Linked DNA regions of Homo sapiens. The protein of the gene in region 1 purifies or fractionates together with the protein of each later gene. This does not show direct contact. Each region holds a gene or a part of one and is shown in the gene's direction. Other genes may lie near its edges. The genes, in order: GOT1, TF, IDH1 and ANXA6.

Region 1 (7,893 bases):
CGGAGTACATGCCTGCAAGGGGCCAGATCAGGCAGACTTCAAAGAGAGTTTGCCTAACCATTAGCACCCTACAGCAACCCAGGGACGAATTTCCTCATATGACAATAGTAAAAACAATAATTTCTATAACTGTGTTAAATGTGTGTATATCAACACTAAGCAAAATTCTTTTTAAAAGTAAATTACATATAAGAATATTAAAACTCAGACACATCAAGTAATTTACTCAAAGTTTCAAAACTATAAGAGGCAAAGCTAGAATTTGACTCCAGGCCCCAGCCTACGTACTGTTCTAGTATACCGCTAGTAATTTAATAAAAAAGCTAAACAAATCTCAAAGGCAAGTGCTTGTAAACAACATCTGTGATGATAATAACGGTCCCAGTTAATACCTGAGTACTAAGTGTCAAGTACAATTCAGTTTTGTATGAAATCATTTAATTAAATTAAATCATTTAATCCTCATAGCAATCCCATGAGGTAGAACTATTATTATTCCCAGATGAGGAAACTGAGGCATACAGAGGCAATCTAGTTCCAGAGGCCATGCTTTTAACCATTATGCTAAACTGTTTCTTAAGCAACATACGAAAACTATACAACACAATTTCTAAATGGTGCCATGGAACTTAGTCACGTTCAACAAGTAAGTAAAACCATCAGTAGTTTTCAGTCCTATTGATCTATCTGTTATACAAAGATTTCAGCAGCTTTAAATAAAGTTCTGCATATGTGGGTACTCAGTTCAGGAACTAACCTTAGACCGTGTCCACTCTATGCCCTTCTATGAGGTAGGAAACAGAAAAATACCCTCACTTGGTTCAATCCATGTGTGCGGATTATGGGAGGAGTCATACGTAAGGGAGGGAAGGAGAGAACTGAGGGAAGAGAAGGAGACATGATTCCATGAAGGCACACTCACGAAACAAGCCAGTGAATTTGAGAGGAGAGGTGATAAAGGATCACTTTCCTTAGGAAGAAGAGTAAACTCATTACAGTGGGAGAACAGCAACACCTCAGGAGCCCTATGCTTATCTTATCGCACACTATTTAGCCACACTGTGCCTCTATAACAGATCTCATACGGCTTTGGTTTTTAAAGAAACATTTGCTCAGCACACAACTCAGCTTCTAAATAATATCCTACCCATAGTGCCAGCACTCACCCAAATATAACGACTCCAAAGAATGACAAACTCATCCCTCCCCTGACTTTTTCCTAAGTTTAGACCTTCGGGTATTCAGGGGCAAGACTGAGTAAAATAAGCATGTGTGGCCTGGTGCAGTAGCTCACGCCTGTAATCTCAACACTTTGGGAGGCCGATTGCTTGGCCCAGGAGTTCGAGACCAGCTTGGCCAACACGGCGAAACCCCATCTCTACAAAAATTAGCTGCGCATGTTGGTGCACACCTGTGGTCCCAGCTACTTGAGAGGTTGAGGTGGGACAATCACCTGAGCCCAGGAGGCAGAGGTTGCAGTGAGCCAAGATCGTGCCACTGCACTCCAGCCTATGCAACAGAGTAAGGCTCTGTCTGAAAAAAACCCAAAACACCATCCACATGCAGATTTACTTACAGGTTCATGCAGTGCTCACTGCTCTTCTTGCCTGTCCAGCCCTGCAGGCTTCAGATTTCCAAGACAGTATGTTCTAAAGGAATTCATTCCAGGTGATGCTGTTGCTATATGGGTTCCCAGTTCCTCTTTTCCACTTCTTTTGAAGAAAAGGTTTCAGGGACAGGAGCAGGGGAAGGCAGAAGAAAGATGCTAGGAGGACTTCTGAACAGACAGTCATAAGGAAGGCAGGAGGCAGTGAGAACACCAGGCTCTTTCTCTTCTGACCCTTACTGCTCTTTCCCTGGACACTCACTTTATCTGGCTGCCTACCTGTCTGGGCAGCATCCAGCTCTTGAGTTGTTTGCTTGAATTATCCATTCAGCAAGGAGGCAGTGTTGAGTCAATTCTAAGCAATTCTAAATTTAAAGTGTTAAAATTAGCGATGACTTGGAAAGCATTCTGTTTATTTCAAGACTGGCATTAAATTAGAGGGGCAGCCTACAAGGCTCAAGACAGAAAGGTACTGCACTTAATCTCCAAGAACCTCACACTCCCTAGGAAAGCAGTTTGAGACTTGGATCCTACATAATATATAGGCTTCCTTCTCCCCCAGTAATTGCCTTTTAAAATTCAGAGCAGATATTGTGGGGACATGGAGAAAAACTGCACATGGCACCTTCTTTGTCCCTATCAGCATTGGCTTGATTATGGGGCGGCTTAGGATGTTAATAAATATTTGGTCTTCGCCAACATTGTTTAGGTAACCTAGGGTTGTTTTTCTCCCAGGGAATGACGTAGGGAGTGACCATGATATTGCTGGCCAACGCTGTGAAGATCATACTTTTAAATCAAATTCTGGGAAGGTTAGGCTATACAATGCCCCCCTCAGCAGTTGCCCTCTGCCCCTGCTTTTGGAAGCACTGAAAGTTCGTTGTCATTTGACCTTCAGTGTTGAACTTGTAATGCTTAAAATGTTATTAGTGAAACACTGTGGGCAGTTACCTTTAAAACCAGAGGCAATGTTTTGGAAAAGAAATAGATAACACAAAAAGTTGACGGATGTTATACAAAGTTCTTTGGCTTGTGTTTATTACTCTGAATGAAAATTCATTTTAAGATTTATAGTATTATCCAGTGGAGAGGGGCTGTGATATTGTTTTCTTCTGAAACACCAAGAGAATTGACTCTTCTACCATTTGTTGAAGGCTTAGTAAGTGCAAGAAACCTAGGGAGACTCACAGGTCCCTAGCCAAAAGAAGCTACATGGCCAACAAGCATATAAAATACTCAACATCACTAATCACTAGAGAAACCCAAATCAAAACTACAATGAGATATCATCTCACACCAGTCAGAATGGCTATTAATAAAAGTCAAGAAATAACAGATGCTGGTTTCTGGTGAGGTTGTGGAGAAAAGGGAATGCTTATACAATGCTGGTGGGAATGTAAATTAGTTCAGTAACCGCGGAAAGCAGTGTGGCGATTTCTCAAAGAACTTAAAACAGAATTACCATTCGACCCAACAATCCCAGTATTGGGTCTATACCCAAAAGAATATAAATCATTCTACCATAAAGATATATGTACATGTATGTTCACTGCAGCACTATTCACAATCGTAAAGACATGGCATCAACCTAAATGCCCATCACCAGTAGACTGAAGAAAATACGGTACATATACACCATGGACTACTATGCAGCCATAAAAAAGAAAGAGATCATGTCCTTTGTAGCAACATGGATGGAGCTGGAGGCCTTTATCCTAAGTGAACTAATGCGGAAGAGAAAACCAAATACTGCATGTTCTGACTTGTAAGTGGGAGCTAAACATTGAGAACACATGGACACAAAGAAGAGAACAACAGACACTGGGACCTACTTGAGGCTAGAGGGTGGGAGGAGGGAGAGGATCAGAAAAAATACCTGTCAAGTACTATGCTTACTATCTGGGTGACAAAATAATTTGTACAACAAACCCACATGACAAGCAATTTATCTATAAAACAAACCTGTGCATGTATCCCGAACCTAAAATAAAAGTAAAAAAAAAAAAAAAAGCAGTTTACCATCTATGAAGGGTGTGGCAGATATGCAATGTTAATAATAGCTGACATTTAGAGAGTCCTTCTTACATGCAACTAACCACTTCGTAAATGTATTAACTCACAAACTCCCCACACCAACTCTGAGGAAAATACTATTATTTCCACAGAGCAGGAACTTCCACAGAGAGGTTAAAATAACTTGACTAAACCTGCCCAAATTCGTAAGCGGCAGCCAGAATCTAAACCTAGATAGTCCGGTCCCGGAGATAGGTTTTTAACCACAAAGGCATTTTCTAAAATTGTGAAAGTACAGAAGCACAGGAAAGAGACATTTTGGCCAGATAAGGGTTAAGGGAAGGCTTCATGGATGAAGTGGCATTCGCTCTGGGTCTTGAAGGTCAGCAGATGGAGAGGGCTCCTGGGGAGGAAGGACTCTAACGGGGAAGGAACAGCCTGACGAAGAGGAACTTTGGGTACCAGCCAGCTGACGACAGCAAGATCTGGTCCGGTGCGCGCGGGAGGAAGCTGGGAAGGGACGTCGCGCCCAGATCCCGAGGTCCTTGAGGACCAGGCCCTCTCTGCAAGGAATCGGGGAGGAAAATCTCAAACTATTAATAGAAGAGCGGCAAAAAGGAATTCGTGCGCACCCCTCTCTGTTGGAAGGACCTTCCCTGCCAGAGACCAAGGCTGGCAGGACAGGTATACTTCCCTCAGGGGGAAACAGCCGACAAAGGTGGTCAAGGTCGCCCGCGCAGGCTCCGGAGCTGCACGTCCTGGACGAACACTCCCGTCCCGAGCACAGACGCTGGGTATTTGGCTGCCAGCCCGGGCCCGCCAGGCCGGGCCTGGCACCGCCAACACCTGCTCGGCGGGAACAGGAAGACCTGTGTTCGGGAACTCCCTCCGGCCACCTCCCCGTATCCTCCTGGCCCTCGAAGGTCGAAAGGTGGCCTCTCAGGGACACCCGCCGCTCGCTCGGCTCCTCCCCTCAGCCGGGAGACCCAAGGAATAACAGCCTCTGCGATAGGAGCACGCTCTACCAATCAACCGTAGTCTTCGCCCACGCCTCAGCCGGAGGAAATTGCATTGGTTGCATCATTCTCGGCAGCCGATAAATTGTTTTCTTGGATTGGCTAATAGCGTTCCTTCTCCCCTGTGCCTTCGTCGTCAGAAGCTGGCGATTGGTTAATCGCGTTGCCAAGCTTTGGACGCGGCTCGACCATTGGAGGCCGCGGGCCCGCCCCCGCCGGCTAGGTGAAGGTGAGTGTCTCCTCCAGTCGCAACGGCCAGACCTGACCTGCCAGCTCCGGGCGTGGGGTGAAATCTCTTGATTCCTAGTCTCTCGATATGGCACCTCCGTCAGTCTTTGCCGAGGTTCCGCAGGCCCAGCCTGTCCTGGTCTTCAAGCTCACTGCCGACTTCAGGGAGGATCCGGACCCCCGCAAGGTCAACCTGGGAGTGGGAGGTAAGGATGTAGTGCTCTGGAGTGTGAGCAGCTCGGGGAGTGGAGCGGACCCAACCCAGGTCGTGGAGACTGTGGGAGAAGCCGAGGCCCAGTGTGGCGCTGCCTGAAGAGGGCGGCGCCGGAGAGGAGGCTGGATCCACGAAGGCTTCCTAAAACCTGCCCATTTTACAGATGCAGGTGTGGAGTCCCTGGAAAGGGGCGATGTGTCCGAGGCCGCACAAACCAGGTGTAGCAGCCAAGACACAAACTCAGTCTTTCCGATTCCCCATTCTGCCTTCTTTATACTGCATCCTCCTAAGAAATGAGGCTGCCGGAGCTTGTAGAGAGAGGTAGAAAAATAGGAAGCCTGATAGGCTTAGGGTTCTGGTTGCTAGGAAATGGGTAAAGGAGAACTTTTAACGCTAGAAAGCTCTGTTCTGAGTCGGTAAATATTTGAGTGACCACCGAGTATCAATCAGCCACCTTATTAAGCTTTGTAGGGGGAGACTGAGGCTTGATTTTGCCCTTAAGGATTTAAAAATCTGCTGGTGTTACACAATGCTTTGAGACAGGTTAATGCTGCCCCCGGGGGGTCTGGGGAGATGGTTCTGGCCGTCACAGATGTGGTAGGAATGGGTAGAGATGGTGGAAAGGAGTGGAGAGAAGTATGGATGGTAGAAGCTTACTTTCCACACATCCTATCTTCATTTCTTGATTCAAGTGATTCTCTTCTGTACCTTGGACAGCTCAGAGCATGGGCCTCAGTTTCCCCATCTGCCAAGAAGATTTATATTGGAGTGCCTCTCAAATTTTTTACCCCTAACCCTCTCTGATGAATTTGTTATTCTTCTCACTATCATTTGGATGTTTGAAGCCCCACAGACACTTATTTTCTCCATTTGGATTTTGCCACGTGCAAAGACCAGCCAGAGAGATGAAAATGGGTAGGATAAAGTCTTATGCTAGGTAATAGACTTAGAATAAAAGGACTAGAAATTGTGGAAAGAGAAGGTGGAATCATTTTGTAGCAGAGTGTGACATGAAGGACGCTCAGAATCAGGTTTCTCATAGATAACGTTTTGTCTGTGCATAGCATTTGTTAAAAAAAAAAAAAAAAAGTCGGCCGGGCGCGGTGGCTCAGGCCTGTAATCCCAGCACTTTGGGAGGCTGAGACGGGCGGATCACGAGGTCAGGAGATGAGACCATCGTGGCTAACACGGTGAAACCCCATCTCTACTAAAAATACAAAAAAGTATCCGGGCGTGGTGTTGGCCGCCTATAGTCCCAGGTACTCGGGAGGCTGAGGCAGAAGAATTGCTTAAACCCGGGAGACGGAGGTTGCAGTGAGCCGAGATCGTGCCATTGCACTCCAGGCTGGGCGACAGAGCGAGACTCTTTCTCAAAAAAAAAAAAAAGTCTTCACTAAGGAGTATGGGGAGGGGTAAGGAAAAATCCATTGAAAAGTGATGGTTTGTTGAAGCGGGTAATTTGTTGAAGCTGGATGATGGGTACATGGGCATACGTTATATTATTCTCTCAGCTTTTGTATAGGTTTGAAATTTTTCATCATAAAGCTTTTAAGATAAGTCAGTACTACATAGTTTGGCCCATTGAGGGAAAATGATGTTTTTAGCAGGCAACTGAGTGGGAGAAATGTTGAAAGATTGCCTCAAATTGAATTTGAATGGACACCATTTGGTCTCTTAATTTAAAACCAGTCCAAAACCTCCAAGCGTTTCTTTGCAGCGGGATGTATACAAAGAACTAGTATTACTGTCAATCTAAATACATCTTTTTAAAACGTCAGATTTTGCCTGCCACGGTGGCTCACGCCTGTAATCCCAGCACTTTGGGAGGCCAAGGCAGGTGGATCACCTGAGGTCAGGAGTTCGAGACCAGCCTGGCTAACATGGTGAAACCCCATCTTTACTAAAAATACAAAAATTAGCCAGACGTGGTGGTGCACACTGGTAGTCACAGCTACTTGGGAGGCTGAAGCAGGAGAATCGCTTGAACCTGGGAGGTGGCGGTTGCAGTGAGCCAAGATCACGCCATTGTACTCCAGCCTGGGTAACAGAGTGAGACTCCGTCTCAAGAAAGAAAGAAAAAAAAAAACAAAAAACCACGTCAGATTTATTTTATTAATTCAATTTACCTTTGAACTATCTTACAGGGTTTCTGTGAGGATTAAGTACATTTAAAGTGTTTATAGCTGTATTTGGCACATAAGTAGGATTTATATAAGTGTTAGGTATTACTGTTATTGTTGTTTTGGCATTTCTTTGAGTGATTCTCATAAAAGATATTGAATAAAAATTTTCAGTTCAAGAACTGCAAAATGAACTAATTTATGACCTTGGTTCAGAAATAAACTGCTCCTGCAGAGAAAAAGCACCCCGACAGCACAGGCCAGAAGCAATGGACTCAGAATTGGAGTCATTGACTCAGACGGCCACCTCAGCTGTGAAGGTGCCTTTGTCATGTTTTCCAGGAACTCCAACTCCTTACCATGAGCAAATTATTTATGCATGTAATCTCACTGAATGCTCACAACTCTGGAGGGTGGTTTATTACTATTACTGTTTAGAGGCAAGGAAGCCGAAGACTGGAGAGGTGAAGCAATTTGCCCCAGGTCATTTGACCACTGGGTGGTAGAGCTGGGAATCCAGGCCAGGTCTCTCAGGCCTCAGAGTCTCTGCCCACACCTGTATTTCAGGTACCTCCAGGTGGTAGCCAGTACACTGTAGTGGGAAGAGCCAGGAGACCTAGGTACAGGCCCAGCACCGTGGTCCAGCCATGTGACTTGGAAGGGTTGTTTAACATCCCTGGGGCTCATCTGTTAAAT
Region 2 (5,775 bases), on another chromosome or scaffold:
AGGGTTCCTAGGGCTGCTTTGGGAGACAGAACCCAGAAACCTGGCATACTGGCAAAAGGGTAAGAATTTCTTACCAGCCAGACTCTGGTCTCTGTCTCTCTGTGCAAACTGCATAAATGAATAGTAAAAGTCACTGTTTATCTCCTCTGTAAAGTTTTGATTAATATAAAAAAAGAATTCTGAGGCCGATCTTAAGCTGTAGTGAATCTGGTGTGCTTTGTGTCTTTCTGTATTGTTTTGTCATAAAGAGGGGTACCTTAGAATAAAATGTGTGCTTAGGACCCCATAGACCTGCTGTTCAAGACACACCAGCAGACTGGTCAGTCATGTCTTTGGGAGCTTGACCTTGTAACCATGTGGCCATGCTTTCTCTTTTCACAGTGGCAGCCTGGGTTTAGGGTTCAATTCCTGGCTTAGGGAATGAGTCCTTTATCTTCTGTCTGTGTATTTATATGTGTTGTGTGTGTACTATAAAAGAGCATTAATTAATTAGCTTAATAATAATAAGAGCTTAAATCAAATATTTTATCAGAAAAGTAAAAAATGTAATGCCTTCTATTTACTTCATGTAACTTAAGTAATCTTTGGGAAATAAAGACAGTTTTAAAGATTATTGGTAAAATAAAAATATCTTCAAAATGTAAATATTTAGTCTAAATTATGCAGGTCAGATATTAGATTTGCAAAATGCTTTAAGGTCATAAACCGCTTCTTTGACTTTTAAAAATTGCTCAATTTATTTTGGAGCATTAGATTCTAGATAAGGCCTGGGGACAAATAGAATTAGCCATGTCCCCTAGCTATGCAAAGAAGGTTATAAAGAAAGGAGATTTTATATAAGAAAGGATCTTATATCGTAAATTCGTGTCCTAAAGTAAAATAAGCGGTTGTTAAAAAAGAGGGATGTTTAGGACAAGTTAGAAAGTCAAAGCATGTCGTAGATGGTCTGTGTAAGTCATGAAATAATTTACAAAAGAGAATTTATGCAAGAAATATACAATTTAACGGTGATTAGACCTCCTAAATGCTTCATAAAATGCCACTATGACTCTTAACTCTACAACTTGCCTGCTTTACAGCTCGGTAAGGCCTGAGACACGTGGAGTCAGATGCTGGAGTCAGACCTTAAGTGTACTTCTCTCTGGGTCCTAGACTCCACAACTAATATATAATTAAAATCCTTAACTTACCAAAGTTTTCACCAAAAGTAAAACTCGCTAAGAGTTAACATTGTAACATGTAAGTGAGACTACTGAAGCAACAGTTTTACATGCAAGTTACGTAAGAAAAGTGAATGCATTTTCAGTGAAAGATTATAACAAGGCATGGGAATGTAGATTTTTTTTTCTGTCTAAAGGGTTAAAGGATTGTTTTAAGTTAGGATAAAGCTAAAAGTTTGAATGAGTTGTGGAAGATTTATAAAAATTAATATTGTAAAAAATTATGTGTGTGAACATATTGACTAAATTTAAAGGGGTATTTTCTGGTTTTTCCATAAATTGAACATCAAAATAAAAGCACAAACAGGGTTTTCTTAAAGCACCGATCTGCTCTTTAACAAACATTTGTAAAGGATTATAAAAGGTTTATGAGAATCTCACCTTATGGTCAAACGGATTAAGATTGGAAAGATATGTCTACAAGGTTTTCTTAAAAATTGGGGTTGACATTAATAGCACACTAATGCAAGGGTGAAATTTGGCTTTCTCTCTTGAACAAGATTTTCATGCAGTATTAAAAGATAATGAAAGATCTTTGTTTGCCTTTTGAATAAACTACCCCCCCACCAAAAAAAAGGAAGGGAAAGACAAGAGACAGATTGTTTGTAAAGTAAGTCTTCCATCTATCAACATGGAAAGGTTTTTGCCTTTTAAAACATTTTTGAGTCATCATTTTGCTAAATGAATGACTATGGTAACCTGGAATTCCATTTCATAATGTCAAGTGTTTTAAATCTTTAACATATTTAATAGGCTTCCCAAAATCAAATTTCAGCTTCAAAATTGTCTTTTCTAACCTCTAACTTTGAGATGCTGCAGAGGGCCCCTGAAGCATCCAAAAGAGAGGTAAACAGAATTATTTGACATGTTTAATTACATGGGAAGCATTGTCAAAAAGAAAAAAATTTAATCTTCTTCAGGTTATATTTTAGTGAATAATATTAATATATGTTCCAAAATTGTATGAGATTTCTAAAATTCCAATATGTCTGAGTATATGCTATCAATCATAATTATGATTATTATGTTATTGTAGACCACAGAAATAACCAAATTTCCTTGTCAATTGTGTTTTTAACTATAACTATTTAAAGTCATTTCCACAGTTAATTGCTTAATGCTGATGCAGTTTCTGAAAACTTCACAAGCATGCAAAGTCCTAGAATATGGTGTCTTTTAGGAGATTCATGAAAGATTGGAAAGGACCCTAAAAAGCACTCTTGAATACAGGTTTCTAATAAGTTTAGAATTATATCATTTGAACTGGGTAAGAATTCCTGGAACTTTAATGAAAAGACTGACTGAGTTCTAAAACTGCTAACCCAAGTAGAACAAAAATTAATTAAATACCAAGAAAATACTTTGCCAGATTTTCATGCTAAATCAGCTGATACTGAAACTGTTTAGATATAAAATTTGAATAAACTCCATCATTTAAATCAAATTACCTATGATAACCCATCAGTTATCAGTGTTATGCACCTAATTTGGGGAAACAACTGGTATTCAAGAGGATATGAGTCTAATGTTAATTAAGCATGAACTCATGGAGAACCAGGATGGCCACCTTGTCCTTCCTAAGTCGTTAAAGCTTTTGTTAGTAAAATTTCTGCATTACATGACTCGTCACGGAAAAGATAAAATGATCCAAATTGAATATATTGATGTGGTGACTTATAAATTGCTAAAATAGTTTATAACCAATGTTTGGTCCCATATTCCTGGGAAAACAATCAAAGCTTCAGGTACATCCAGTCACCTGATAGGCCATTTAAACATTTTATAGAGGGATTTTATTCAATTGTTATTTTCAGTGCATGTTTTCTGGTTGTATAAAAGCTTTCCCATGCAAGAGGGCTGATGTTATAACACTAAGTTATTATGCCACCAAGTATTTTCACAAGGTAAAGAAAGCTTTTTATGGTTCACTGAGGACAATCAACTCCTTCACAACCTAGAAACTGAAGATTGTATCTTCTGAAAACATTGGATAAAGACTGTCCTTGCCATCCACACTACAGCAAAACTTCTGGACTTTGAACTTTGGGTTCATGATCTCACAACTGAGAAGAGTCCCTCCACACTCTTGGAACTGTACACCCATTGGAACCCTTAAGGTAAAGCTAACCAGGGAAGTTTCTCTCCCGAAGAAGATGGCATCCTTGATGTGAACAGCTTTTCCCAAGATCATGAATCAAGACTTCTCTATTATCATGAGACTCTTATCTTTGAATATTTTTTCCTTGCTTTTGCCTCTATGAAGAATAGAAGTGGAAAAAGGATCTGTTGTGTACAATTATGGGTTATACTTTTATTTGTGAAGAATTTTGCAGCCAGCTTTAGGTCCTTTTTCCATGATTTGGAATAAAAGAGGCAAATGTATCCCTCATAATAGGCTCCATAGCAGTTTACTGTAAAGGCTATGGTTACATAATAGACTAAATTATCTTAAGAAAGTTATGCTAAATAATAGAGTTGGCTAAACAGAAGAGTATCTGTGCAGCTGCTGGCACTCATGGCCTATGGAGAAAACATCAGGTATTATAGAGATTCAGTTGTAGCAAATTAATGAAGAGACTGCTTAGTTAAGTGAGTAGACTCTTTAGCTCATTGTTTAATCTATTTGAGTTTAGGAGGTTTGGTTTATGGTGACCCTGGATAAGGAGCATACTTACTCTCAACTCTTGGTATTATCCTCCTGATAGTCATAATAATAGTCTCCCTGGTGTGCTGTATTCTCTCAACGGTTTTAAATGTTTGCATGCTGCCACCTCTAGAATGTCAAATGGCCTCTCTTCAACTGGAATGACAAGAGCTGAAAGAAATTGCAGCCATGAGGACACTGTAACCTACGAATGATGTGCTGAGTCCAAAAGCCCAAAGTGTTGGTAACTGAGAGTGGTGCTAAGTAAGGCCCTAAGTTTTGGTCACACTCTCACTTAAGTGAGAACCTGACCAAAAAAGTGGAATTTTTTTTTTTTTTTTTTTTTTTGAGATGGAGTCTCACTCTGTCACCCGGGCTGGAGTGCAGTGGCACGATCTCGGCTCACTGCAAGCTCCACTTCCCGGGTTCACGCCATTTTTCTGTCTCAGCCTCCCGAGTAGCTGGGACTACAGGCACCTGCCACCACGCCCGGCTAATTTTTTTGTATTTTTAGTGGAGACGGGGTTTCACCATGTTAGCCAGGATGGTCTCGATCTCCTAACCTCATGATCTGCCCACCTCGGCCTCCCAAAGTGCTGGGATAACAGGCGTGAGCCACTGCACCTGGCCAAAAAGGGGAATTTTTTTTAAACAAAATTATGGGAGGTCATTTTTTTGTACTGAGCCCATGCGCCAGGCCCCAACAGACCAAACTAAACCAAAACGGAGTCACGTATGCCAAGACCTTAAGGAAACACATAGATCCTAGAACAGACCACAGGCCAGGTTTTGTTTTTCTCCTACAAATCTCTATAACAAACATTCCTGACAGCATAGATATCCACCCCCTGAGTTCCCATTAAATCTTTTAACCAAATTAATTTCCTCTCGCCAAAAGACCATCAAGCTTCAGATGATCATGCAACAAAAGTTTCATCCAGTTCCACCACCCCTGGCCATCAAGGAGCTACCCTGCCTTCACTAGAAAGAGCAGAGCAGGACTTCTGTGATCCTCAATAGGTAGGGACTAGGCCTCAAGCCAACATGAAGCAGTTACAAAAGAAAGACCATCGGCCCCTCCACCTCCCATAAAGATTTATGGGGATCCCATCTCTGGAGGGAAATGAGGCAGAAGAATAGGGTCTGTAGGCAAGGAATATAAGGCAGATGCATGCTCACTTCCTAGAACTAAATCAAATGGAAACACTTCAGCTATGATGGGAAATGTCTTCTGTATTTACATAGGGCATACACTGAGTAACCAATGGAAACCTCTAGAGGGTATTTAAACCCCAGAAAATTCTGTAACCGGGCTATTGAGCCCCTATGCTCAAGCCCTCTGCCACCCTGTGGAGTGTACTTTTGTTTTCAATAAACCTCTGCTTTTGTTGCTTCATTCTTTCCTTGCTTTGTTTGTGCATTTTGTCCAATTATTTGTTCAAGAAGCCAAGAACCTGGACACCCTCCAGTAGTAACACTACTGGACATATAGTGGACAAAATTAAGTCCTTATTTGAAACATCTAGTCTTCTAGATGTTTAGAAGTGCACACAGTATGTTAAAAGTAGAGGTAGTAAATAACACATTTTGTAGATATCCTTTTGATTCATATGAAACATTGTCTTTTGGAAATTGATCAAACCACTTCACATTATATTTATGCTGATTCAGGGAGGAAGGAGCAGAAGAAAGTGCAAAGGGCTTTATATCAGTGTGTTTACAGTATGACACAATTGACTGTTGTCCCTTATATCTGCATTTCCTTTTACTTTGCTGTGTATACAAACAAACATTTACATAGCTTTGGAATTTTGAATTGGTAAATATTCATGATGTGTGAAAAAGCATGATACATACTGTATGATCCCAATTGCATAACATTGGATGGTGTCCTAATTTATAACATCTAGT
Region 3 (7,026 bases), on another chromosome or scaffold:
AGGCAAAGACAAGGAGATGATTATGCATTTATCTTAAAGCACAGAGAGAAGGTTGGCAGAAATCTGCTGTGCATGAATTATATACATTAAATATTAATATTCTCAAATCACCCAGCATATAATCCTGCCCTTTGCTCTGGTAGGGCTCTTGTATCTGGAAGAGGTTTCCTTATATATTTGCTGAAGTTTTCTTCTTGCCCTTCTGGGTATTTATCCTGTGAAAAAGTAGAACATTTGCTTTTTGCCTTTTCTTTCCCAGCTACCCTGCTACCTTTGATGGCAAATCCCACCCAAAAGTTGTTGAAATAATTAGTGGGCCCTTTTCCTTCACTATTGAAGTTGTTGAAAGCACTCACACAAACAAAAATACCCAACACTCACCTACCTTTTGTTTTTCTTGCCTCTTCCAAATAATATCTGTTGGAATCTGGTTCTGCAGGCTTCAGCACCTTTCACCCTGAACCCAAGTTAACCCTGAGCATTGGCATGGATTCAAGTTCTATCTTTAAGTAATAACAAAGTTCAATAATAGTTGTAAAACACAGTGATTACATGTAGCATAATTATTTCTACTTATTTCTACCAACTACAGTAGGAGTGCTCAGTATCCTCCAGGAGATTATAAGAATTTTCATTCAGTATTTGAAATTTAAGTTTTTCTCAATAACTGAGGATTGAGTACACCCCTAAAGTTTAAAATAGATGTTGGGAATTGTAAAGGTAGGGTGTTTGTCCATTCTTGCGTTGCTATAAAGAAATACCTGAGGCTGCGTAAGTTATAAAGAAAAGAGGTTTAATTGGCTCATGGTTCTGCAGGCTGTACAAGCCTGGCTCCAACACCTGTTCCTGGTGAGGGCCTCAGGAAGCTTCCAATCTTGGCAGAAGGCAAACAGACAATAGGTGTATCACATGGCAAGAGCGGGAACAAGAGAAAGAGAAGGGGGAGGTCCCAGACTCTTAAACAACCAGATTTCAAGTGAATTAACTGAGCGAGAACTCACGTAATCACCAAAGGGGATGGTCCTAAGCCATTCATAAGGGATCCAACCCCATGTTCCAATCTCCTCCCACTGGGCCCCACCTCCAACACTGGGAATCACATTTCAACATGAGATTTGGAAGGGACAAATATCCAAACCATATCAGTATGTAAAAGAAGTTTCAAAATTATTTGCCTTTTCTTAAATGTATTTCTGGTTCATATCAGTTTTTGGCATTTCTGCATCTTCAGGATTTTAAAGACTGTATGTTTTTTCATTTCTGCTGTCCTTCCAAAACAAGTTAGAATGTCCTTATCTAGAACTGGCTTTTCTCTCATTATGTGCCTCAGAAATTTGTTGGAAACCTGTCTGGGACTTCTGAAATCTAGTCTCAGATGTGAGAGCTGAGAAGTAGGTCATTTGGTTGTGGTGGGTGATTTTAGCCTTATTACAACTACATTACATTTATTCTTCTCCCTTTTTTCCTCTCACTGGCTTCTCCTCTACAGAAGGTGGTGGTGTTGCCATGGGGATGTATAATCAAGATAAGTCAATTGAAGATTTTGCACACAGTTCCTTCCAAATGGCTCTGTCTAAGGGTTGGCCTTTGTATCTGAGCACCAAAAACACTATTCTGAAGAAATATGATGGGCGTTTTAAAGACATCTTTCAGGAGATATATGACAAGTAACTATAGTTCTTTTTTAACTTTTTCTTTATTCTCAAGTAAGCTGACATTTGCATATAGAGTATGTATCTCCCTATCCCTATGATTCTGGGTAAATTGAGTGAAAATCATCACTGTCTCTTAAAGATAAGGGCAAAACTGAGGTTTAGCAGGAGTGAAACAAAACCACTCTGACTTGCTTTTATAAGATAAACATGTTCTTAAATAAGGTCCCCACATGAATTGTTTTCAGAGCCAGGTTCTTTAATGTTTAAATAAACGTACGCTGTTAGTGATAAGTTCTAATTTTTCATGTGTGAGTTTCTAAGTCAGACCCATTTCCATTCTTTCTGAAGCCCATTGTTAGAATTTAAAATTCTGTTGGCCAGGCACGGTGGCTCATGCCTGTAATCCCAGCACTTTGGGAGGCCGAGGCGGGCGGATCACGAGGTCAGGAGATCGAGACCATCCTGGCTAACACGGTGAAACCCTGACTCTACTAAAAATACCAAAAATTAGCCGGGCGTGGTGGCGGGCGCCTCTAGTCCCAGTTACTGGGGAGGCTGAGGCAGGAGAATGGCGTGAACCCGGGAGGCGGAGGTTGCAGTGAGCCGAAATCACGCCACTGCACTGCAGCCTGGGCGACAGAGCGAGACTCCGTCTCAAAAAAAAAAAAAGAAAAGAAAAGAAAAAAAAGAATTTAAAATTCTGTTTTAGTGGAGTCATTTGAACTTAAGTCTAAGTTTATAACAACACTGGCTTCCACAGCACAGGAGGTGAGCATGTGTTAATATTTAAGATTGGCATAACTCCCTTTAGGTGCAAGTGTTCAGGCCAAAATGTTCCTGAGGCATTTTGATTCCTCCTCCTGCTGCCCATCTATACCAAGCCCAGAAACTGTCTGGAATATATTTTAGTTTCCTGAATGACACCAAGAAGTAGAACAGTCTTTTCAAAAATGTATTTTAAAAATAAGCTGAATCTCAAGAATCTGATCTATAGTATAATGAAAACTGAAAAGTGAAGTAGTCATTGGGATACTCTACTGTCTCACTTAATTCTCACGGCTTCCCTGCAAGGTGGGTAAAATTGTTCCTACAGATAGTCAAATTGAGTTTTACAGTTAGAAAATGATTGGGCTAGGATTTGAGCCAATGTCTGTCAGATTCCTGAGTTTCTGCTACTTCTACTAAAATATGCTGCTTCTTGTGTGTCCGGTCTTCTGTTTGGGACAAGCAGATGATATCCCTAACAAAATCAATTTTCTTTATTATTATTCTCTTTTACCTTTTGTTTCCCAGGCAGTACAAGTCCCAGTTTGAAGCTCAAAAGATCTGGTATGAGCATAGGCTCATCGACGACATGGTGGCCCAAGCTATGAAATCAGAGGGAGGCTTCATCTGGGCCTGTAAAAACTATGATGGTGACGTGCAGTCGGACTCTGTGGCCCAAGGTACAGAGGTGGAGCCTGGCCTGTAGGAACAGGGTCATTCCAGGGTAGTTCTCTAATTTGGGAAGGGGAGTTTTGTAGTCCTTTGTTGTAAAATCTTGGAATGTTAAACCTCCAGGTCCACCGTCTTACCTGACAGCTAAGGAAATTAAGCTCAGACTAGAGAAATGATTTACTCAAGACCACATGGGAAGTAAATTAGTGGATTGACACTCCTGGCTCCAGTGTCACTCCTTGAAGTTTTAAAGCCTACCTGATCTGAAAATCACTCCCTTTCCCTGCCCTCCTTGTCCTTTGGTGAAAATGTAAAAAACCAGGGCACTCAGGCAAGGAGGGATAAAGTGAGGAGCTTGATCATGTCATAACCAAGCTTTGGTGCCTGCAAAGCTCATTTATTGGGCAGCAGGACCTACTCATGTCCCTCTGCCAGCTGCTGTTCTGGTAGAATATAAAACAAATGTGTTTGGCTGGGCACAGTGGCTCACGCCTGTAATCCTAGCACTTTGAGAGGCCAAGGCAGTGGATCACTTGAGGCCAGGAGTTCAAGACCAGCCTGGCCAACATAGCAAAACCCCATCTCTACTTCAAAAAAAAAAAAAAAAAAAAATTAGCCAGGTGTGGTCGCATGCCTATAGTCCCTGGCACTCAGGAGGCTAAAGCATGAGAATTTCTTGAGCCTGGGAAGCGGAGGTTGCAGTGAGCTGAGATCACGCCACTATACTCCAGCCTGGGCAACAGAGCAAGACTCTTGTCTCAACAACAACAAAGAAAAAGTGTTTTTGTTTACTGCTTAGCTTACACACAAATCAATTGAGCAAAGAACCCTAGGGGCTGTTTACAGAAATTCCAGGAGAAGTTTCATGCATGGGGTAAGGGCCAAATCAACAGAAACACAGCGCCTGGTTTCCTCAGCACCAAGTTGCCCTTCAGTTTCAGTTGCCCTTGGTAGCTGTATGAACTTGAATCTCCCCAGATGAATGTTTGTTAACTTTAATTATGTTTGTTTTTCCCAAGAAGTACTACTTTTTCTGTCTCTTATCAGTGTTAAACATCTCCTCTCAGTTTGAAAATCAGTAGATCAACCTGGTTAAAGATAACTTTTTGCCAGATAAATGAGTTACACAACTCTCCTTACCATCCTTCTGTTTCTCTACATCCTCACAATCATTTGTACTGAATGCAACAGAGGAAGGAGTGTTATTGCTTTGTGATGACTCCGTGGTTGATTATTAACTTCACAGGTGATGTTGGGAGGTAGCAAAAATGGAGAAAAGAAGAAAATCAATTATATAGATATAAGAGTTGTAATGTGGTTCTTTCAATAAGAAACCACAGAAGAGAACTGTTGTACTGAGGGTATGAAAGAGAGCGAGGAAGGGCAACTGGGATGTTCTTAGATCCAACCGATCCTGTGTTTACCTGCCTTCTCTTCCCAGTCCCAGCAAGTGTATGAGCAGCTTGAGGGTTCTTAAGAGACAGCTCTCGTCCATCTTTATTTCCCCAGAACAGCAGAGCATTGCACATAAGAATAACAATAATAGATTGAGCTCTGTGTCCAGTACTATTCTAAGGAATATAAATATATATTCATATATATTTATGAATATATGTATATTTATCTAATCCCACAGCAACCTAGTGAAGTAGGTGCTGTTATTACTCCCATTTTACAGATAAGAAAACTGAGCCGCAGTAGCTATGAAGTCATAGAACTAGAGTGGAATGTAGGCAGTTGGACCCTGAACCCTCCATCAAGGAGTAGGTATCCCTGAAATAAGTGAGGGGAAAATGCAGCCTTTCCAGACCCATTGGCTCTGATATCTGGAGCGGGGATCCTGCCTTCTGAAAGGCAGAATTATTGGTGATTCCATGTGCTCTTGTTTACTTTGCTTACCAAGACCTATCAAGATTGAGTCATTTATGCTCTCATCTCTGAGAGACTCAGTGCTCTTCATGCAGTTGGACCCAACGCTTCATGCTCCACTACTTACAGGGTATGGCTCTCTCGGCATGATGACCAGCGTGCTGGTTTGTCCAGATGGCAAGACAGTAGAAGCAGAGGCTGCCCACGGGACTGTAACCCGTCACTACCGCATGTACCAGAAAGGACAGGAGACGTCCACCAATCCCATTGGTAAGATGGTGTTTACATTGATTTCTCACCAGAGAGTGCTCTCCAAAGCAGCCCAGATGTGTTCCCTTGGCTGCTCAGTGTTTTGTGTGCAAAGTCATCACCAAGTAGCTGATTTGTTCTACTAGTAAGATCTATTTGAATATGCTTCTTAAAATATACAATATTTGCTTTTCTGTTTTGTGGGAGAACATAGGTTACAGAGAGGAATGTTATCAACAAGCATTTTCCTTTACCTCTGGTGCAGTGAAATGTCACATAAGGCTACAAATCTAAAAGTCACATGGATAGATCCTTTTAACAAGTTTCAAAGATAGCACTTCAAAAAGAGATTACAGCCTGGAAAAAGGAGACCAATATAGACAAGAGATAGAAGAGATTGTGACCTTTTTCAAATTAGAAAATGCCTTAAGTTTCAAACACTAGTACCATGCCATGAAAATGTGTTTTTTTAAAGTTTCTGTTTGGTAAAATATTTCTAACTCTCCTAAAACTTCTAGCCCATGTGGTTAGTATCTAAAGAAGTCTGTCACCTAAACAAAAAACTATTCTGTTTTGGGGAACTATGAGACATTTGGAAACCTCTATAACTAGGATGATTGGAGTGTTGTGTTTTTTTTCCCCTCTTTTAGCTTCCATTTTTGCCTGGACCAGAGGGTTAGCCCACAGAGCAAAGCTTGATAACAATAAAGAGCTTGCCTTCTTTGCAAATGCTTTGGAAGAAGTCTCTATTGAGACAATTGAGGCTGGCTTCATGACCAAGGACTTGGCTGCTTGCATTAAAGGTTTACCCAAGTAAGTATAAGATGCCCTAGTTTCTATGGTCAAATTAACACTTATCCTCACTGGGCTCAGAGCATCGGTGCTTTCTGGAATTATATAAATTGTTATTCATCATCTAGTTCAGGAGTCAGCAGATATCTGTAAATTGTCAGATAGTGAACATTTTAGGCTTTGTGGAACATATAGTCTTTTTGCAACTACACAACTATTCAACTTTGCCTCTGCCATTGTAGCAGGAAAGCAGTCATAGACAATACAGAATCAAATGGTGTGGCTGGTACCAATCAAACTTTTATGTTCAAAACCAGCCTCGATTTGGTTCATGTGCTGGGCTGTAATTTGCTGACATCCCATCTAGTTGATAATCATTGAACGAAAAGGTTCTATTTAATTTTAAGAAGCAGATTATAGACAAATAGAAACAAAGATACTTCAGAGGCTATTTTATTCTACTCCTTTATTTTCTTTAACTTACTGATGAGAAAAGTGAGCAGCACAAGTTTAAGGTGTGCAATTGATTACAGTCCCTTAAGTATCTGTAACCAATATTTGGGCAAATATTTGACAGCCCATATGTTTACTGAGAATTTTTCTGAGAACATAGTAGCCAGTATCCTGGGGGGATTGTCTCCATATCTCAACCAGTGCATCTGCAGAGGTCCCAGGTAGGGTCAGTATACCCCATAATGGGGATATACTTGGTCACTGCATGTTTCTTAATTTAAATTTCCAACAAGATTGCAGTGTTCGCTGGGTGCTGTGGCTCATGCCTGTAATCCTAGCACTTTGGGAGGCCGAGGTGGGTGGATCACGAGGTCAGGAGATCAAGACCATCCTGGCTAACACAGTGAAACCCCATCTCCACTAAAAATACAAAAAATTAACCAGGCGTGGTGGCGGGCACCTGTAGTCCCAGCTACTCGGGAGGCTGAGGCAGGAGAATGGCGTGAACCTGGGAGGCGGAGCTTGCAGTGAGCCGAGATGGTGCCACTGCACTCCAGCCTGCGTGACAGAG
Region 4 (7,577 bases), on another chromosome or scaffold:
CTCAGGCTGGAGTGCAATGGTGCCATCTCACTGCAATCTCCACCTCCTGGGAGTGATTCTCCTGCCTCAGCCTCCCAAGTAGCTGGGATTACAGCATGCACCACCACGTCCAGCTAACTTTTTGTATTTTTAGTAGAGATGGGGTTTAACTATGTTGGTCAGGCTGGTCTTGAACTCCTGGCCTCAAGTGATCCACCCACCTCAGCCTCCCAAAGTGCTGGAATTACAGGCATGAGCCACCGGGTCCGGCCTCTCCCCAAATGGTAACATAAGAGTGTCTCAGACTCGGTCCTTAGCATCGTGGGTGATCAGCAACTATTTGGGGCTGGCGGTACAGGCAGTAAGAAGAATTTACCAAGGCAGTTGTAGGTAAAGAAAGGCAGATTTATTAGAGAAAGTATGAAAATACATTGCTGCCAGACGTGGTGGCTCATGCCTATAATCCCAGCACTTTGGGAAGCCGAGGTGGATCACGAGGTCAGGAGTTTGAGACCAGCCTGATCAACATGGTGAAAACCCATCTCTACTAAAAATACAAATATTAGCCAGGTGTGGTGGCACGCACCTGTAATCCCAGCTACTCAGGAGCCTAAGGCAGAAGAATCGCTTGAACCCGGGAGGCGGAGGTTGTGGTGAGTCGAGATAGTGCCACTGCACTACAGTCTGGGCGACAGAGTGAGACTTCATCTCAAAAGAAAAACAGAAAAGAAAAGAAAATACGTTGCAAGGGTGCAACGGGCAAGTTAGCAAAACAGAAGCTAACTGCAAGAAAACAAAATCTGGCTAAGGATTTTATAGGATGGTGCTTGTGCTGTGTGCTGAAGAGGGCTTTGTGCAGTACTGATAACATCAAGGGTGCAGGGAGCTTGCGTGCATTTTTCTATCAGGTGAGGGTCTGGCAATAGCTGGGCGCAGATAAGATTGTGAGTTATTCGCACAGGAGGGCTATGCATCCTGGGCCATGAAGAAAGGCAGACTTATAGCTTATCTGCTTTCTCTTTTTGCTTTCCCTTGGTCCTGCCAGCCTGACTCCTTTTGCCGAACTAGGACTCCATATTTAGTTCTCTTCTCCCTTAAGGATCTCATCTCTTGAACTCCAGACTTGACTAGCCAACTGCGTACTTGACATCTCCTGTTGGGTGTCTAATAGAAATGTTCAACAAACTGGTCAAAAACTGAACTCCTGATCTTTTCCCCACTTCTAATTCCCAAAATTGCTTTCCCTGCAGTCTTGCTCATTTCAGTTGATGGTAACTCCATCCTTCCAGTGGCTCAGGCCAGGATCCCTGAAGCCATTCTTGACTCTTTCTCATCTCCCACCTGATCCTTCGGAAATCATGTTCAACCTTCAAATACATCCCATCTCCAACCACTTCCCCCACCTGCATTTATACCAGCCTGTCTCTTGCCTGGATTACTGCAAAATCTCCTAGCAGATCCCCTTCTTCTACTCTTCCCCCAACAGTATTCAGTATTTCCAACACAGGAGACTTCAGTGACCCTTTAAAAAATATGTCTTGGCCAGGTGCGGTGGCTCACACCTGTAATCCCAGCACTTTGGGAGGCCAAGGCAGGTGGATCACCTGAGGTCAGGAGTTCAAGACCAACCTGGCCAACATGATGAATCCCCGTCTCTACTAAAAAAATACAAAAATTAACTGGGCATGGTAGCAGGTGCCTGTAATCCCAGCTATTTGGGAGGCTGAGGCGGAAAGAATTGCTTGAACCCACGAGGTGAAGGTTGCAGTGAGCCGACATGGCACCACTGCACTCCAGCCTGGGCAACAGAACGAGCCTCTGTCTCAAACAAACACAAAAGTCTTATCCAGAATATAAAAAGAACTCATATAACTTAACAACAAAAAAGACAAAAAATCCAATTTAAAAATGAGCAAAAAGCATGATTAGATATTTTTCCAAAGAAGATGTACAAATAGTGGCCAATGAGCACACAAAAAAGATACTCCACATCATTAGTCAGAAGGGAAATGCAAATCAAAAACACAATTATAGATGCCATTTCATAATGACTAGAGCACAAGTTTTTTGTACTTTTGTTTTTTTGAGACAAGTTCTCACTCTGTCGCCCAGGCTGGAGTGCAGTGGTGCAATCACGGCTCACTGCAGCCTCTACCTTCCAGCTTCAAGGGATCATCCCACCTCAGCCTCTCCAGTAGCTGGGATTGCAGGCATGTGCCACTACCCCTGGTTAATTTTTTGTAGAGATGCGGTTTCGTCATGTTGTCCAGGCTGGTCTCAAACTCGTGGGCTCAAGCAATTCACCCACCTCGGCCCTCCCAAAGTACTGGCATTACAGGCATGAGCCACTGTGCCTGGCCGGGTACAAATTTTTAAAAAATAAAATACAAGTGTTGGCAAGGACATGGAGAAATTAAAAGCCTCATACATGACATGGCTGATGGGAATATAAAATGTTGCAGCCACTCTGAAAAAATGTTTGGCAGTTCCTCAAAAACTTAAATGTAGAATTACTATATGACCCAGCAGTTTCATTCCTAGGTAAATACACAACGACAATTGAAAACAGGTACTCAAATAAGTATTTGTATGCAAATGTTCATTAGCAGCACTATTCACAATCAGCAAAAGGGGGAAACAATGCACTATCCATCAACAGATGGATGGATAAACAAATTATAGTGTACTTATACAACGGAAAATTATTCAGCCATTAAAAGGAATGGAGTGCTGGACCGGACACGGTGGCGCATGCCTGTAATCCCAGCACTTTGGGAGGCAAAGGCGGGTGGATCACCTGAGGTCAGGAGTTCGAGACCAGCCTAACTAACATGGTAAAACCCCATCTCTACTAAATACAAAAATAAATTAGCCACACGTGGTGGTGCATGCCTGTAATCCCAGCTGCTCGGAAGGCTGAGGCAGGAGAATTCCTTGAATCTGAGAGGTGGAGGTTGCAGTGAGCCGAGATCACGCCATTGCACTCCAGCCTTGGCAACAAGAGCAAAACTCCAACTGAAACTAAAAAAAAAAAGGAATGGAGTGCTGATACATGCTACAGTGTGGATGAACTTCAAAAACATGCCACATGAGGCCAGGCACGGTGGCTCACGCCTGTAATCCCAGCACTTTGGGAGGCCGAGGCAGGTGGATCACCTGAGGTCGGGAGTTCAAGACCAACCTGACCAACATGGAAAAACCCCGTCTCTACTAAAAATACAGAATTAGCTGGGTGTGGTGGCGCATGCCTGTAATCCCAACTACTCGGGAGGCTGAGGCAGGAGAATTGCTTGAACCCAGGAGGCAGAAGTTGTGGTGAGCAGAGATCACGCCACTGCACTCCAGCCTGGGCGACAAGAGTGAAAAAACAACAACAAAAACAAACAAACAAAATGCCACATGAAAGAAGTCAGACAAGAAGGGTTGCATCTCATGTGATTCCATGTATATGAAATATCCAGAATAGGCACATCCGCAGAAGCAGAAAGCAAATTGGTGGTTGCCAGAGACGAGGGGTAAGGGAAAGTTAGGAGTGACTGCTCAGTGGGTATACTGTTTTATTTTTCCGTGAAGAGAATATTTTGGAACTAGATAGAGGTGGTGGATACACAACATTGTGTCTGTACAAAATGCCACTGAATTGTTGACTTTAAAATGGTTAATTTTATGTTGTGTGGATTTCATCTACCCAAAAATAATACCCTTTCTTTGCTCAATATCCTGCAATGGATCCCCAGTTGACTCAGAGTAAAAGACAGCGTGCCTTCAAGGGCCCCGGAGGTCCCACCTGATTGGGTCCCTCTTATCTCTCCTCTCCCTCCCACTCACTCCATTCCAGCCACACTGGCCCCCCTGCTGATCCTCGGAGGCGCCAGGTGGCCTCCTGCTAGGAGCATTTGCTCCAGCAGTTTCCTCTGCCTGGAACACTTTCCGCAGGTATCTGTCCAATTCTTCTAACTTCCTCATCTTCTCCTTACCAATCCCCTGGGGACAATAATTCTCAGTTTCCTCTGTATTCTCAGTTTATCAATTTTTCCTGTTCTAGCGCTGGATTACAACTGCTGGTCTCCCTGCCTGCCTTCCCTGCTTCCCAGAGCACGAAGAAGCTTGCCTCCGCAACCCACTATTTGTGTGACCTTGGTCCAGGAACTGGACTGGGCTCTCCTCCTGAAAGTGGGTAAATAATGTCACCGACCTAATGAGGCTGTTGAGGCATGGAATCTGATCAGGCAGATAAAGTGCCCCTGGCAAACCTCAATTTTCTGTTTCTCAACAAAGCTTTGGCGACTTATAAGAATTTGCGGGAAAGTGTCCAGAACCCGGAGTCAGGAGCCCTGACTTCTAGCCCTGAAGGGCCGCGTGACCTTGGCCAAAGCCCCTAATCCTTCTCAGTCTCAGATCCGGGGGCTGGAAACTGAGGAGGTTCTCCCGGCAAGCCCCTCGGGCTAGTGACATTCTAAGATTCCAAGAGCTAAGGAGCTAGAGGGGTGGGGTGGAGGAGGGAGGCGGGCGCGCCGGATTGGCCTCTGCGCGCCACGTGTCCGGCTCGGAGCCCACGGCTGTCCTCCCGGTCCGCCCCGCGCTGCGGTTGCTGCTGGGCTAACGGGCTCCGATCCAGCGAGCGCTGCGTCCTCGAGTCCCTGCGCCCGTGCGTCCGTCTGCGACCCGAGGCCTCCGCTGCGCGGTGAGTGGGCTGAGGCTGGAGAGGGGAGTCGCTCTGGGAACCCCTTCCCGGGGGCTGCAGGGACACAAGAAATAAGCGCCCAGTCATCGGCTGATGGGTACCCCCCGCCAGGAGCAGGGACGGGAGGGCGCGGTAACCCGAGAGTGTCGCAGACTGGGTGTGTCTGGGGAGCGCAGCGGAGCAAATCTGGGGTCGGGGCGGAGAGGCGCGGGCGGAGGGCGCCCTGGCTAGGGGGAGGGGAGGGAGTCCCGTTGCTGCAGAGGGTCTGGTTGAGGGTCCTGGGCGCCGGAGCTGAGCCAGGGGCTGGTCCTGCCGGCCTTAATTTGGGGGGGCTCAAGAGACTTTGAAGGTCCGGGGTTGGGGTCAGCTGGACGCCAGTCAAAGGACCCGCAGAGAAGGGTGTGGCTGAGGCCCAAGACTGAGAGCAAGAGCGTTGGACCCTCCAGCTGCTTATAAAATGGCTTGTGTGTGGTGTCGGGGGAGGGCTGCCTGCGTGCAGAGAGCTGAACGTCCGGTCGTACATACCTCAGGGCCTCATTGGACCCCATCCCCTTTGGGCCACTGCTTGTCTATGAATGCAGTCTCCCAACGGGGCTCCGAGGCCTCCTATGGTGAGGCAGGGGCACTACCCTTCTTTCTGCATCCCCTAAGCGGTCTAGGCCTTCCCAAAGTTTGGGGGCTTCAAATAATTCCCCATATACCAGCATGGGAGCAAAATACCCTGAATCGGAATCCCAGCCCCTGTTGCAGTGTGACTTTGGGCGGTGGCTTTCCCTCTCTGAGCCTGGATTTCCTTCTCCAAGTCCATAGTTGAGAAACCCAGTCTCTTTCAAAGGAAACAATGGCTTTGAAAACTGATTTATTTGTCAGCTGTATGGAATGATTGCAGGTTTGGGAGTCTTGATTATAGATTTGGGAAGCCTGGCACAACCCTTGTAGGCCCTACAAGGGGAAAGGGCAGGAGGTCCTTTGGGACAACTAATCTGGCCACGGCTTCCTGCCTCCTCCTTCCTTTCCCTAGATTCTAGTGGGTCTTCTCTGACAATTCCAAATTTGGACATATGGCTCCCGGGTTTGTGAAAGGACTCTGGTTTCCCCCCAAGAGTCCGCCCTTTTCCCTCCATTATTCCTTCCCCCTTGCCCAAAACATGCTTGGGATTGCTTCCACTGACCCAGATGGCATATCCTGACCTGCGTAGCCCTTCATGGTGAAGTGAATGACCGCCCCAGTTTCAGCCCCTGTGGACCCTGACCTCCTAGCAGGCAGGCCCTGAGCCACGCCGAGGGCACTGGCCTGGGGTCAGAGGAAAGCCCGGTTACAGTCCGGATGTGCTGGGACTTCTTGAGCAAGCCCTTTCTCTAAGGCTTTGTGCCCCATCTGGAGCAAAGTCTGCTGAACTGGCTGCCACTGCCAGTGCAGACATTCTAGGATTCAACTGTTCTAAGATTTAGGATTCTGGGAGTTGGATGGGACTGGGGAGGGCAGGAGGCAGAGGCTTTCATCCCCCTCTGCAGCTGTGACAATCACTCATCCATCTTTCTTTGCCTTATCTACCCTTTGTTCCTAAGGCAGCATCTGCTGAGATACAGAAAATACTTGCAGTTTCTGGATAAGGGCCACAGCTGTTGCTGGGGCAAAATGTAGATGTGAGTGTGCAGAGGAGGGGCCAGGGAAGCCCAAGGCCTGGCCTCTTGAGACTGACTCCTGGGATGAAGTGGGGGAGACTGCAGTGCTGGATAGCTGCCAGTGACTGGCACATCCGCACTGCAGCATCCAGAGGGAGCCCTGGGCCACCAGGATCCAGCCTCGGACCCAGCCCCTGCCCTGCCACTAATCAGCTAGGCGCCCTGGGCACACCTACTACCCCTCTGGGGCTTAGCCCCTTCCTCTCTACAGGGATAGGACATATACCCAGGACACCCCACTGGTATTAATAAAATGGGTTGGGTCTGAATGGCTTTTGCTCTACCATTCTAGGATTTTCTGGGGAGGCCCAGTGGAATCACCAGCCTCACCCCACCCAGCCTCTCCGATATACTTCCTGGGTGGCGACAAAGCACAGGATGTGGTCTCTACCGTGATTCCTGAGCATGCATGCACCCCTTCTCCTGCCAATAGAGGGGAGGAAGTCGGAGGGGTGTCTTTATGCCTATAAACTTGCCTTGGAATCCAGCCTCACTCCCTTTCCTCCTGGAGTTGAGAAGCCCCCACAGAGACTGGCTATGGGGGAGTGACTGTCTATAGGTTCCTTGGATGTCCTGCCTATCTGCAAAATGAGAATGAGATCGATACCTTCATGAGGCTGTAAGATGGCAGATATAAAAGTGCTGTGTTATCTCAAAAGGGTGTGGTGCTTGAGAAGGCAGGCGACCTGAGCCTCAAGTTCCTCTTCTGAAAAATCCATGTCCTGGTGGTCCTTAAATAATAGCAATAAAATGGTAACCACTATTACCTCTCGAACCCTTAAATTTGCCAGGCCCCGGCTGAAGCCTTGCTATGTTAGACGCTGTTATTAATGCCTATTTTGCAGACATGGAAACTCCAGCCCTTAACAGTTTAAGGAAGAAATAATAATGACAAATGCTTATAAAATATAGTGCTTCCTGTGTGCCAGGTCCTCTTCTAAGCTCTAGACTTGTCTTAATTTTTTTTATCCTCATCATAACTCCTATGAGGGAGGTGCTATTTTTATCCCTTTTTTTTTTTTTTAATATGAAACAGGCACAGAGAGGCTCAATACTTGCACAACACCACACAGCTACTAAATATCACCCTCAGGCTTCAATCTCAGGCAGTCTGGCTCCAGCATCTATACTGTGAGACACTACTTTGCTGCCTCTCACAAAAGTGACCCAAGCTGGGGTTCAAACCTAGGCTAGACTAGTTCCAATCCTGAGGCAGAGAGATGATCTC

Evidence for each region.
Region 2: the proteins of GOT1 (region 1) and TF purify together in Homo sapiens (affinity purification with mass spectrometry; 2 studies listed by BioGRID and IntAct, with this or other methods). This does not show direct contact.
Region 3: the proteins of GOT1 (region 1) and IDH1 fractionate together in Homo sapiens (co-fractionation; 2 studies listed by BioGRID). This does not show direct contact.
Region 4: the proteins of GOT1 (region 1) and ANXA6 fractionate together in Homo sapiens (co-fractionation; 2 studies listed by BioGRID). This does not show direct contact.

What each region holds. Positions count from the first base shown.
Region 1 is NC_000010.11:99,427,624-99,435,516, reverse strand, and holds the start of GOT1 (aspartate aminotransferase, cytoplasmic), read left to right. Parts: upstream 1-4,892; 5' UTR 4,893-4,951; coding exon 4,952-5,069; intron 5,070-7,893. UniProt on the Homo sapiens protein: Biosynthesis of L-glutamate from L-aspartate or L-cysteine. Important regulator of levels of glutamate, the major excitatory neurotransmitter of the vertebrate central nervous system. Acts as a scavenger of glutamate in brain neuroprotection.
Region 2 is NC_000003.12:133,791,382-133,797,156, forward strand, and holds the end of TF (serotransferrin isoform 1 precursor), read left to right. Parts: 3' UTR 1-5,260; downstream 5,261-5,775. UniProt on the Homo sapiens protein: Transferrins are iron binding transport proteins which can bind two Fe(3+) ions in association with the binding of an anion, usually bicarbonate.
Region 3 is NC_000002.12:208,238,068-208,245,093, reverse strand, and holds part of IDH1 (isocitrate dehydrogenase [NADP] cytoplasmic), read left to right. Parts: intron 1-1,489; coding exon 1,490-1,667; intron 1,668-2,948; coding exon 2,949-3,100; intron 3,101-5,090; coding exon 5,091-5,231; intron 5,232-5,860; coding exon 5,861-6,023; intron 6,024-7,026. UniProt on the Homo sapiens protein: Catalyzes the NADP(+)-dependent oxidative decarboxylation of isocitrate (D-threo-isocitrate) to 2-ketoglutarate (2-oxoglutarate), which is required by other enzymes such as the phytanoyl-CoA dioxygenase.
Region 4 is NC_000005.10:151,154,766-151,162,342, reverse strand, and holds the start of ANXA6 (annexin A6), read left to right. Parts: upstream 1-4,563; 5' UTR 4,564-4,663; intron 4,664-7,577. UniProt on the Homo sapiens protein: May associate with CD21. May regulate the release of Ca(2+) from intracellular stores.